Linked DNA regions of Homo sapiens: regions 2 and 3 are each linked to region 1. Evidence: fine-mapped expression QTL. A gene starts in region 1. Each other region holds a variant in brackets. All regions are shown on one strand. Distances are between the middles of the regions. Region 1 holds the start of ZNF483 (zinc finger protein 483). Region 2 overlaps PTGR1 (prostaglandin reductase 1). Region 3 overlaps ECPAS (Ecm29 proteasome adaptor and scaffold).

Region 1 (4,352 bases):
TTCTTCCTGATGCGTCTAAAGCCAGCCAAGGGGAGGTGGGTAAAGGAGAATATGCCATGGGACTCGGGACTGAGAAAACTTTTGTCTTCATTCTCAGCCCTGTTTCTTTTTTTTCTCTTTTTTTTTTTTTGAGACGGAGTTTCACTCGTTACTCAGGCTAAAGCGCAATGGCCTGATCTCAGCTCTTCACAACCTCCACCTCCCGGATTCAAGTGATTCTCCTGCCTCAGCCTCCCGAGTAGCTGGGATTATAGGCATGTGCCACCACACCTGGCTAATTTTTTGTATTTTTAGTAGAGACAGGGTTTCTCCGCGTGGGTCAGGCTGGTCTCAAACTCCCGACCTCAGGTGATCCACCCGCCTCAGCCTCCCAAAGTGCTGGGATTACAAGCATGAGCCACCGCGCCCGGCCATTCTCAGCCCTGTCTCTTCAGCTTGACTTGCTGCCTGTGATAAGCCCACTCCTTTTGAGAGGAGTGGTTCATTTAGTTGAGCTTGCTCTGCCCTTTTGAAGTCTCAGGGCCTTGAATCACCTTGCTCCTTCAGTCTAGAATGAATCTAGTCTTTCTCTCCTAACTCCACCCCTTCAGGGATCATCCAGTTATTAGAACCCTCCAAACAATTTTTCTGGAGTTCTTTGGCCCTTTTTGCAATGCCCCCAATAATCCATGCAAATACTCATTCATAAGCTCAACAAATATCTATTGAGTGCCTGCCATGGGCCAAGTCCTGTTCCAGGACCTAAACACACAACCTAGAACAAATGAAATAAAAATACTTACTCTTCTGAAATTAGTATTCTACTGGAGAAGGCGGACAAGTAGTAAAAAAAAAAATTAACAAACCTATAGGGCATGTTAGAAGAGGAAACAAGAGTAAGGTGGGATTCCTATTTAAGTGGAATGGTGGGAGAGCTTCATTGAGAAGACCTGAAGGGATGAGAGAGCGGGCCGTATGGCCACTTAGGGAAGGAGCAGGTCAGCCGGAAGTACCTGGCAGGTTACAAGAAGAGGAAGGGGTCTATCAAGATTGGAGCAGGAAAGTGGGGAAGAGGTGCGGGAGGTTACAGGGGCTAGATTCCATCAGGCCTTGTAGGCCACTATAAAGACTTGGGTTTTAACTCTGAGTGAAATGGGAAACCATTGCAGGGTTTTAAGCAAAGGAGGGTCATAATTTGACGTTTTTAAAACGTCCGTCTGGCTGTGGAGAATAGCCAAGAGAAGTAAGGTATAATCAAGAAGCTATTGCAATAATCCAGGTGAGCCATGAGGGTGGACTGGACCATGGGGGCAGGTGTGGAAGTCATAAGATTAATATGTGTTTAACTCAAGTTGTGGCATTAATTATGGCTTGCATTAAATGCATCGGTAATATGCTTCTGCGGTGGATTTTTCCACCTTAGATTTCAGGGAATGGAAGTGATGGGAGCGGGTAGGGAAGGTCTGAGGTTACTAAACAGATGGAGCCTCCTGGATCTGCAAACCTCATACGATTCTAGGCCTCTGAGCCTCTGGCGCAGCAATAATTCTGCAGCCGAGCCCACTAGCCGCTTCCCAGTGACCATGCGCAACAGGCAGGTGGGAGCCTATGGAAAGCGCGGACTTTCGGAAAGCTGCACGAGCGCGTTCGGGGAGTCCGGTTCAGCGCCTCTGCGCAGGCGCAGTGGTTCCCGCAGGCTTGCGCGCGCACTCGCTGCGGGACAAGCTTCTGGAAGCTCTTTGCGGTGGCGTTGGTGCTGTTTGCGGATGCTGATGCAGGTACTGGTCGTCCCGGGCCCCGAGTTTCGGGGCCGTGGCCGGGTCGCCGGCTCCGAGGGCGCACTTGGGGCGGGATGGGGGCCGGGAGCAGCCTACCAACGGGCTGTGCGCTGCGCTGCTGCTGCTTCTGTGGGAGGTGCGCACTCCGCTGCGGGATGGGGCTGTTGGCTTCCCTCCATCCCTCCCTGCGCCACTTGGGCACTGTTGACATTTTGGGCGGGATAATGCCTTGTTTTGTTTGTGGTGTGGCGGTGAGGGGGAGGCTCTCCCGTTGTGGCAGGATGTTTAACAGCGTCACTGGTTCTGCCCGTTAGATAACAGTACCACCTCTCGTCCTAGTCGAGCTAACCAAAAATGTGTCCAGACATTGCCAGAGGACCGCTGGGGGGTGAAATCTCTCCTTTTTTCTTCCCTCTGGTTGAGATCCTCTGGCTGCGTCACATTTTCACCGGGCCTCCTATGTAAACTCCCTGTAGACGGAGCCGAGTGTCTTAGTCATCGCGGAGCCCCAGGTGCTCAGCACGGCGCCAGGTACGTGGTGGGCGCCTAATATTTGGCAGAGGAATAAATGACGTCATGCTGCTGTGTGCCGGGCGCTGTACTCGGAAGTGGGTTGTTATTGGTATGGTAGTTGCAATGCGAGGCTGTCACATCCTTCACTTGTCGCATTGTAGTCCCGCTCCGGCTGTATTGTCATTTCCTGGACCCTCTGTGAGCGTGAGGACCCTTTCAGGCCTGTCCACGCCTGGCCCCGCAGCTCATGGCCCCTGGTCTCGTTCCAGCTCATTGTAGTTGCTCCGTCACTTATAGAATGAATGAATGAATGCAACACAGGGCAGTCTGTGTGCAAAGGAGTGCTTTGGGATCAAGCAGAGCATCACACCAGAAGTGACAGTTGAAAGGAGTCAGGCTTTAAAGACGAATAAAAGTTTGGTAGGAGAAAGAAAGCAACATTCCGAGGAGAGGGAATAGCCTTGGTGCAAAGGCTAGGAGAGTATGTAGAGAGAGAGGAGATACTAATTTATGGCTGTAGTGTCAATCGGGTAGCTAGAGCTCAAGAGGTGAGGTCATCAGACAGTGTCTCTAGATCACAATGCCATGGTCCCTGCATGTGAACTTTATCGAGAGACAGTTCGGTGGCTGGTGAGGGACTGTAAGCCGGGGAGTGATAAGATCATATTTTGCATGTTAGAAGGAATTTTTTGGCCACAGTGTGAGACTGGAGTGAAGAACCCTGTACTTAGGCAGTTTCAGAAGGATAGAATGGAGAGGTTCTTAGGAAATAAAATCGCCAGAACTTGGCGATTGATGGGAGAAGTAAGGAGGAAGAGAAATTTGAAAGTCAAATATTAAATTGGGCTTCTGAGTTGAGCAACTAGTGAGAAATGTGTGCCCTTTCATTAAGAAAGGGTAGGAGTTGTTAAATAGCTTTGTGACTGGGTCCCCTTGTGAACCTTTTCTGATAACATTTTGTTTAGGAGGAGTATTCAATCTAAAGCAACTGTTTCCTTAACCCTTAAGTAGCTCCCTGGTTTTTGACTATAAAGAAAATTATGGCTGGGCACAGTGGCTCACGCCTGTAATCCTGACACTTTGGGAGGCTGAGGTGGGTGGATCGCCTGAAGTCAGGAGTTCAAGACTAGCCTGGCCAACATGGCGAAACCCCGTCTCTACTAAAAATACAAAAATTAGCCAGGCATGGTGGTGGGCGCCTATAATCCCAGCTACTCAAGAGGCTGAGGTAGGAGAATCACTTGAACCCAGCCGGGGCAGAGGTTGCAGTGAGCCGAGATCGCACCACTTCACTCCAGCCTGGGCACCAAGAGCGAAACTCCGTCTCAAAAAAAAAAAGAAAGAAAGTTATCCTTTTAATTGAGCAGGGCTTTTCTAGGCCTTTGCTGGTATGTGTGTGGATATATTTCTCTGAACCAAACCAAGAACGATGTTTTTAGGACTAACAACAGTTTTTTTACTTATTTAATGCCTTAATATTTCTTCTTGACAGTTTCTGCAGGACTGTAAACTGGATTCCTGGAACCTTTGATATTCCTGGCTGTGTATAGTGCCTGTTGGTGGACTGTACTGATACTCAACTAGAGTGTGAAGGGACTGGATTCCTGCCCCTGAGACACAATGCAAGCTGTAGTGCCCTTGAACAAGATGACAGCCATCTCACCAGAACCTCAAACTCTGGCCTCGACTGAACAAAATGAGGTCCCAAGAGTGGTTACTTCTGGGGAACAAGAAGCTATTTTAAGAGGAAATGCTGCTGATGCAGAGTCTTTCAGACAGAGGTTTAGGTGGTTTTGTTACTCAGAAGTAGCTGGACCCAGGAAAGCTCTGAGTCAACTCTGGGAGCTCTGCAATCAGTGGCTGAGACCAGACATTCACACGAAAGAACAGATTTTAGAGCTTCTGGTGTTTGAGCAGTTCCTGACCATTTTGCCTGGGGAGATCAGGATTTGGGTAAAGTCACAACATCCTGAGAGTAGTGAGGAAGTGGTGACCCTAATAGAAGATTTGACCCAGATGCTTGAAGAAAAAGGTGAGATTTATAGATGGAGGGAGGAAGCGGGAGACATTGCCTCAAAGTCC
Region 2 (4,000 bases), 42 kb after region 1:
AGGCTGAGGCAGGAGAATCACTTGAGGTCAGGAGTTCAAGACAAGCCTGGCCAACATCGTGAAACCCCATCTCTACTAAAAATAGCCGAGAATGGTGGCGGGCACCTGTAATCCCAGCTACTTGGGAGGCTGAAGTGGGAGAATCACTCGAACCCAGGAAGTAGAGGTTGCAGTGAGCTGAGATCGCGCCACTGCACTCCAGCCTGGACGACAGAGTGAGCCTCCATGTCAAAAATAAATAAATAAATAAATAAATAAACACCTAACTAACTATGATCAGCTTCACTTTGTTAGAGGGAAGCACTGGGGACACCAGCACAGTGGTTTCCTGTTGTCAACTGTGATCACAGATGGGTTACATTAGATTTCACCAACTGGGACAACTTAGATTCAGCTCCCTGGTGACAGCCCAGCCCGGCACTGCAAGTGCTATACTGGGAAGAGTGCCAAGCTCCAGTGGCTGCTGGAGGAGCAATCTATTCTTTGGAATTGGGAAATGATCATTGGCCAGGGATTAGGAAACATGATGTCATTTTTCCCCTGTAAAACTAAAATAATGCAACTTGATTGTTCAGATTTCTGTTGACTAAAACTTACATGGTGTAAGGTTTGAAAATTATCACAGCACAGGACTAAGGGATTGTCTTATTTGCTACTTGGGACCTGGAAGAGCTGTGGCACATGTATGCACCCCTCTAACATTCATTTATTCAGCAATATTTATTCAGTGCCTACATTGCTTCATATACTATTCTGGGGGCTGGAGATACACCAGAAAGCAAAATGTATGAATATGCTGTCTTCATGGAGGTTACATCCTCAAGAAGGGAGATGTGCAATAAATATAAATGAATAAGTAAATTATAGTATATATTATGTTAAAAGATGATTAATTGCTATGGATAAAAGTAGGATAGGAGCCTGGGCAACATGGTGAAAGCCCTTCTCTACGAAAAACACAAAAAAACTAGCCAGGTGTGGTGGCACATGACTGTTGTCCCAGCTACTCAGGAGGTTGAGGTGGGAGAATCCCCTGAGCCTGGGTCAAGGCTGTGGTGAGCCATGATCACGGCACTGCACTCCAGCCTGGGTGTCTGAGACCCTGTCTCAAAAAAAAAAAACAAAAAAAGTCGGGGGGCGTGGGATATGGAGGATCAAGAATGAAGAGGGAATGCAACTTAAAATAGGGCCATTTAAAAACTTGCCTCACCTGGAAGGCACTTTTTGTTTTTTTGAGATGGAGTTGTACTCTGTCACTGTGCTGGAGTGCAGTGGCACGATCTTGACTCACTGCAACCTCCGCCTCCCAGGTTCAAGCGATTCTCCTGCCTCAGCCTCCCAAGTAGCTGGGACTATAGGTGCACGCCACCATGCCCAGCTAATTTTTGTATTTTTAGTAGAGACAGGGTTTCACCATGTTGGTCAGATGGTCTCGATCTCTTGACCTTGTGATCCACCTGCCTTGGCCTCCCAAAGTGCTGGGATTACAAGTGTGAACCACCGTGCCAGTCCAGACGGCACTTTTTAGCAAAGGCTTGCAGGACGTGAGAGAATTCAGCAAGCAGTTACAGAGGGGTGGAGGAGACTGGGCCAAGTAAATAAGAGGATGAATACTAAGAAATGAAATCAGAGAGATATCAGGGGTCAGATTTTGTGTAAGCTTACTGAATATTAGCACTTTGGTTTACTTTAAGTGAAATGCAGAGCTTTGCATGGTTTGGATCATAAGAACGGCAGGATTTGATTTGTGCCTTAACAGATCGCTATGGCCACCACATTGGGAATTGTCTATAGGGATGCAAAGATGGGAGGCCAGGTAGAGTCCACTACTGTTGCGGGAAGTCAGGGACCCCAAACGGAGGGACTGGCTGGAGCCATGGCAGAGGAACATAAATTGTGAAGATTTCATTTTAATATGGACATTTATCAGTTCCCAAATTAATACTTTTATAATTTCTTACGCCTGTCTTACTTTAATCTCTTAATCCTGTTATCTTTGTAAGCTGAGGATGTATGTCACCTCAGGACCACTGTGATAATTGTGTTAACTGTACAAATTGATTGTAAAACATGTATTTGAACAATATGAAATCAGTGCATCTTGAAAAAGAACAGAATAACAGCGATTTTCAGGGAACAAGGGAAGACAACCATAAGGTCTAACTGCCTGCGGGGTTGGGAAAAACACAGCCATATTTTTCTTGTTGCAGAGAGCCTATAAATGGATGTGCAAGTAGGGAAGATATTGCTAAATTCTTTTCCTAGCAAGGAATATTAATAATTAATATCCTGGGGAAGGAATGCATTCCTGGGGGAGGTCTATAAATGGCTGCTCTGGGAGTGTCTGTCTTATGCATTTGAGATAAGCACTGAAATACGCCCTGATCTCCTGCAGTACCCTCAGGCTTATTAGGGTGGGGGAA[A/C]AACTCCGCCCTGGTAAATTTGTGGTCAGACTGGTTCTCTGCTTTCGAACCCTGTTTTCTGTTGTTGAAGATGTTTATCAAGACAATATGTGCACAGTGAACATAGACCCTTATCAGTAATTCTGATTTTGCCCTTGTCCTGTTTCCTCAGAAGCATGTGATCTTTGTTCTGCCTTTTGCCCTTTGAAGCATGTGATCTTTGTGACCTACTCCCTGTTCGTACACCCCCTCCCCTTTTAAAATCCTTAATAAAAACTTGCTGGTTTTGTGGCTCAGGTGGGTATCACGGTCCTACTGATATGTGGTGTCGCCCCCAGCAGCCCAGCTGTAAAATTCCTCTCTTTGTACTCTTTCTCTTTATTTCTCAGCCAGCCAACACTTATGAAAAATAGAAAGAACCTATGTTGAAATATTGGGGGCAGGTTCCCCCGATACACTACAAGCATCCAGGCTAGAAGGCATGGTGCCTGGACCAGGGTGGTAGCAGGGAGGTGGGAGAAGTGTTCAGATTCTGTATATATTTTGAAGATAGAACCACCAGAATCTCCTTAGAGATTAGACATGGGTACGACAGAAAGACATCAAAGATGACCAAGGCTTTTGGATTGAGAAACTAGAAGTATAGAATTGTTATAACTGAGATAGTAAAGTCTGAATATGGAGCATGTTGAGCAGGAAAGATCAAAATATATTTAGTTTTCAAGATGTTATGTCAGAGATGTGTATCAGGCATCCAGGTGGACATACTAGCCTAGAGTTAAGAGGAGAGCCAGGCTGGAGATAGAGATGGGAACTCCCAGCATACTGAGCCCAGACGAGCTAACTAAGGGATAGCTCAAGCGTAGATAGAGAAGAGCAAAGTCCCAGTGACCATGACCTGGGGCACTCTAATATTAATTTGGAGTAAAGAAAAGCTAGCAAGAGTCTGAGGAGGACCAATCAGTGAGGAAAACCAAGAGTTAAGGGAAGCCAAGGGAAGAAAGCATATCAAGGAGAGAATGATCACTATGAAATATTTCCCATAGCCAAGTGAGGCTAAGAATCAACCAGTGGATTTCACTATGTAAGGGTCCCCTGTGACCTTGACAAAAGTTAATTTTGGCCAGGTGCGGTGGCTCACAACTGTAACCCCAGCACTTTGGGAGACTGAGGCGGGCGCATCACTTGAGACCAGCCTGGCCAACATGACGAAAACCTGTCTCTACTAAAAATACAAAAAGTTAGCTGGGCGTGGTGGTACACACCTGTAGTCCTAGCTACTCGGGAGGCTGAGGCATGAGAATTGCTGGAACCCAGGAGGCGGAGGTTGCCGTGAGCTGAGATTGTGCCACTGCACTCCAGCCTGAGCAACAGAGTGAGACTCTGAAAAGCCTCATATGTGGGTTTAAGGAAGAATGGAAAGAGAGGAATGGCAGACAGTGAGTGTAGACAGCACTTCCAGGTATTTTGTTATAAAAGGGAGAGAAGGGAAATGGACCTGCATTTGCAGTGGAAATGAACTTTAGAGAGGGTTGTTTTGTTTTCCTTTCAAAGATGGGAAAAGTAAGAATATTTATACTCTAAGCACAATGACCCAA
Region 3 (4,352 bases), 91 kb before region 1:
ACTTTATTTCTTATACAGAATATTTTCTATAAGTCTATTTCCTATCTGTATCTCCTCGTGTGTGAATTAGAATCTATTCAGCAACTCTTTTCATGAATGTAATTTTCACTGTATTAACCATAATACATACATAGTCTTTATTAAAAGTAATCTCGAATGGTTTGAGACACAGAAAAAAATAAAAATTAGTTTCTTGGAACTGACACTTTTCTTAACATCAATTCTTTAAGTTCATCTACCTAGCCAAAAGTCTCATTGATTGTGATGACATTCCTAACCTATTGCAGCTATAAACAGCATCTCCACACAGATTTTCTTCTCTGTCTTACACAGAATTCAACTCTTTAGCAAACTTGATTACAAACTAGGTATATTTAATAATCTCCTCTAAGTTGAATGCCTCATTACAAAAAATCCTTAAACAAAAAATGTGTCAAGTAAGTTTTTAGAAATGTAGTCCTTTCAATCTTGAAAGTTTACAGGGAAGTAGTTACCTCTGTTTGCTTTTCAATTCCAGGTCTGCTGCCGTTGCCACACTGTGGCGTGTATCACTAGAGGCAATCACCAAGTGGAGAACAGCTTCAAGTTCAGGCACCTGTTCAGCTTCTATGAATTTCACGATTCCCAATTTGCACTGTAGATAAATGAAGGGAAGGAGAAAGAACAGTCAGGGGAGCAAAGGACACCCACTGAAAGTACTGCTTAACATATCAGTGTGGTCACAAGCCAAAGATGAGCAGTAACAACAGTAGCAGCTCCTACTTAGGCTTACAATGTGCCGGGGACTGTACTAAAGCACATATATTCATAATTTCACTTAATCCTCACAATAATAAATCAATCATTATACCCATTTTTTAGCTAAAAATACCGAGGCAAGGCTTAAAAGATTAAGACACTGGTAAACGACGATGGCAGGATTCAAACCCAAGCCTCTCTGACTCCAAAATTATTATGATACACAGCCTCCCTAGTGAGGTTACACAGCCTCTCTAGAGTGATGAAGTCTTGAAGTCCAAATTTGGGGCCTCCAGATAAGAGGGTGGTACACTAGGAATATAGTGCTCCATGGATTTTTCTGACAGTTCAAAAAAGAACTAAACAACTCACATTCCATGGAGTTTCACTCTATTGCTTACATACAAAGGATATGACTTCAAATGTTAGCTACTCAATGCAAGTGAAATTCTAATCAAACAGTTTTCAATTTAATTGACTGGCTGAAATGAAACAGACTAGAGAGATTCTGCTTAGAACTTCATGCAATGTGAAGATGCTATGAATTTCACTACAAATGACTCTATTTAGGATAAATACACCTGAAAAAATAAAGTTTCATTTTCATCTTAAAAAATCAGTCACATAACAGTTTTTACATATACTAGGATTAATAAAGTTTACAATTATTAAATGAGAAAAAAATGCAACTTAAAAAAGCATAACAGATCAAAAAAGGGCCTGCCTTCCCTCCCCTGCTCGATACAACTTACTTTTAACAACAGCTACAACAGAAAAGATTCAAACATTTGTACAGCCACAAAAAGGACACATGGAAGTCAAGTACACAAAGATATAAACTAAACAAAAAATGTGTAAAGAAAACTGAAAATGATACAGATGTCCATCAATAGGAGACTGGTTAAAACATATCACATATAATTGTAAACAAACATTAAAAAGAATTACTTTTTTAAAAATCCAAAATATTATTCAACATAAAAAGCAAACTACAAATAATGTATTACATGACAAGTAGAAATGTATTGTTTAAAACGGTGAACACACACACATGCACAGAGCAAAACTGTAGACAGATGACAAACTAGTGTGACAGGATTCCAGTTAA[CT/C]TTTTTTTTTTTTTTTTTTTTTGAGACAGAGTCTCCCTCTGTCGCCCAGGCTGGAGTGCAGTGGTGCAATCTTGGCTCACTGCAACCTCTGCCTCCTGGGTTCAAGCAATTCTCGTGCCTCAGCCTCCCCAGCAGCTGGGGCTACAGGCACACACACCGCCATGCCCGGCTAATTTTTGTTTTTGTTTTCTTAGTAGAGATGGGGTTTTGCCATGTTGGTCAGGCTAGCCTCGAACTCCTGACCTCAAGCGATCTGCCCAACATGGCCTCCCAAAGTGCTGGGATTACAGGCATGAGCCACCACATCTGGCTTTTTTTTTTTTTTTTTTTTTACACAGAGTCTTGCTCTATCGCCCAGGATGGAGTGTCATGGCACAATGTCAGCTCACGGCAACCCCCACCTCCTGGGTTCAAGTGATTTTCATGCCTCAGCTTCCCAAGTAGCTAGGGTTACAGGCATGCACCACCACGCCCAGCTAATTTTTCTATTTTTAATAGAGACGGGGTCTCACTCTGTTGCTCAGGCTGGTCTCGAACTCCTGACCTCAAGTGATCCACCCACCTCAGCCTCCCAAAGGGCTGGGATTACAGGCCCGAGCCACGACACCCAGCCCCTTAATTTTTAATTTCTCTACTATTCTTAACTACTTGAATATTTACATTGTTTATAATTGGAAAAAACATGTTTTCCTTGGAAGAAAAAGTATAAAACAAAGAGATATTTTAAAATTAGAGGAAAATAGCTTTCATCCCTGAAACTAAACTGTTCGTTTCAGCACTAGATTATGAAACTGACAAAACACATACAGAGGCATATTGGCAAATAATGACCAATTTAAGATTGTAATTGAACAATAACAATTTTTCTCCAGCATTTGTAGCTTTAACCCTTAGATAATCCTAGGTTCAAAGCCTGGTACTAAAAGTGAGACCCTGGTAAATCTCAAAACCTCCATGCCTTTCAGAAAATGGAACTAACAATTTCTATACCTTACTGGGTTGCTCCGAGGGTTAAATGAGATATTGTATTCAAAGTACCCGGTACGGTGCCTGTCACATAGATTGCACTCAATAAAGAGTAGCTTCAGTAAATCTTTTTTTTTTTTTTTTTTGAGATGGAGTCTTGCTCTGTCGCCCAGGCTGGAGTGCAGTGGCACGATCTCGGCGCACTGCAAGCTCTGCCTCCTGGGTTCACGCCATTCTCCCACCTCAGCCTCCTGAATAGCTGGGACTACAGGCGCCCGCCACCACGCCCAGCTAATTTTTTTTTTTTTTTTTTTTTTAAGAAGAAACAGGGTTTCACCATGTTAGCCAGGATGGTCTCGATCTCCTGACCTCATGATCCGCCCACTTTGGCCTCCCAAAGTGCTGGGATTACAGGCATTAGCCACTGCGCCCGGCCTCTGTTAATTCTTTACCTTTCTTACTTACATAATAGTTTAAGGAGGAAAAAAAAAAAAGATCCATAAAACATGAAGAAGGAAATCAAATCAATTATATCCCTCACTCAATAAAACATTCTATAAATTTGTGAATGGCAAGAATGCCCCACTTGCCTCTTTTCCCCTCTCCTGGGAATACTGTTTTAATCAATGGTCACTTACATTTCCCAAAAAAAAAGGGATCAAATCATTTAGACTGCCATGGAGAAATAAAGGAAGGATTAGAAGACTAACCCATGTTGCTTGAATTCCAAAATAATTACATACTGATCTCATCTGTTCTTCCCTGAAGTGCCTGATGACACAGACACAGTAAGGCACCTTCTCTGTAGAGCACCAGTCATTTTTAAAAGCTGCTCAGAGAACATCTGTGTCCTGTTTAAATCCAGAATAAAATCCTTAATGCCAATTTTTAAATTCCCAAGAAGTAATATAACAGGGAGTCATGCTTTTCCCCACATTGTCACCTGTGAAGTGCTGGGGCTCCTCACTTTACATAAAACGTACAGCCCTTAAAAGTTGAATAATGTAAGAAAAATTGTATTTTAACTGCACCATAAAAGCTAGATGAAAATTAAACCTATAATTAAAAAATTAAAATTACAAAAGTTAAAAAATAAAAAAAAATAAAATGACAAAAGTTAAACATATTCAATTTATAAGTGAGTTGTGCTTTATACTTGACATATGTAAGCAGTATTAGAAAAACTAAACAGTATGTCCCACTCCTCCCTGCCCCTAGGGCTTAATAAATAACTAGCATGAAAAGAACACATTACATCAACTGCTTCTTTCAAACATATTTCACTGGAGAGCCTGAATATACTAGAATTATGTTTTATACGGTTCATGAACTTCATAGGGGAAAGTGTCCACAATCAACTACTATTATGAGCAAGCCTTGTGTGATACCTGTTCCAATTGTTCAGGTGTCCATGGGTTATCACCAATAACTCGTTTGGCTGCATAAAAGCTCATTCCCGGAGGAGGCTGTGGGATTCCAGAACCTCCGCCACTGTTTGAAGAAGAACCCTGTGCTGAAGATGAATTTTGGCGACTCTGG

Evidence for each region. PIP is the estimated chance that this variant, and not a neighbour inherited with it, causes the effect. A credible set is the group of variants that fine-mapping cannot tell apart.
Region 2: its variant is the best candidate, but not a certain one, in a credible set for the expression of ZNF483 in esophagus mucosa (GTEx, PIP 0.61).
Region 3: its variant is the best candidate, but not a certain one, in a credible set for the expression of ZNF483 in whole blood (INTERVAL, PIP 0.69).

The regions. Positions count from the first base shown.
Region 1 is chr9:111,523,506-111,527,857 of GRCh38, forward strand. ZNF483 (zinc finger protein 483) reads left to right here and starts at 1,674. Exons shown (of 6, transcript NM_133464.5): 1 at 1,674-1,757; 2 at 3,763-4,302. The coding sequence starts at 3,891. RefSeq lists a silencer at 1,577-1,926 and enhancers at 2,027-2,226, 2,338-2,837.
Region 2 is chr9:111,565,973-111,569,972 of GRCh38, forward strand. The region is part of intron 9 of PTGR1 (prostaglandin reductase 1); the gene reads right to left. It also overlaps a transcript of ZNF483 not described here. Among named protein-coding and RNA genes, the nearest start is that of PTGR1, 32 kb to the right of the region's middle. The variant A/C (reference allele first, on the strand shown) is at 2,424.
Region 3 is chr9:111,432,739-111,437,090 of GRCh38, forward strand. It overlaps ECPAS (Ecm29 proteasome adaptor and scaffold), which reads right to left. Exons shown (of 50, transcript NM_001364929.1): 7 at 4,202-4,352; 8 at 495-634. Among named protein-coding and RNA genes, the nearest start is that of ECPAS, 49 kb to the right of the region's middle. The variant CT/C (reference allele first, on the strand shown) is at 1,847.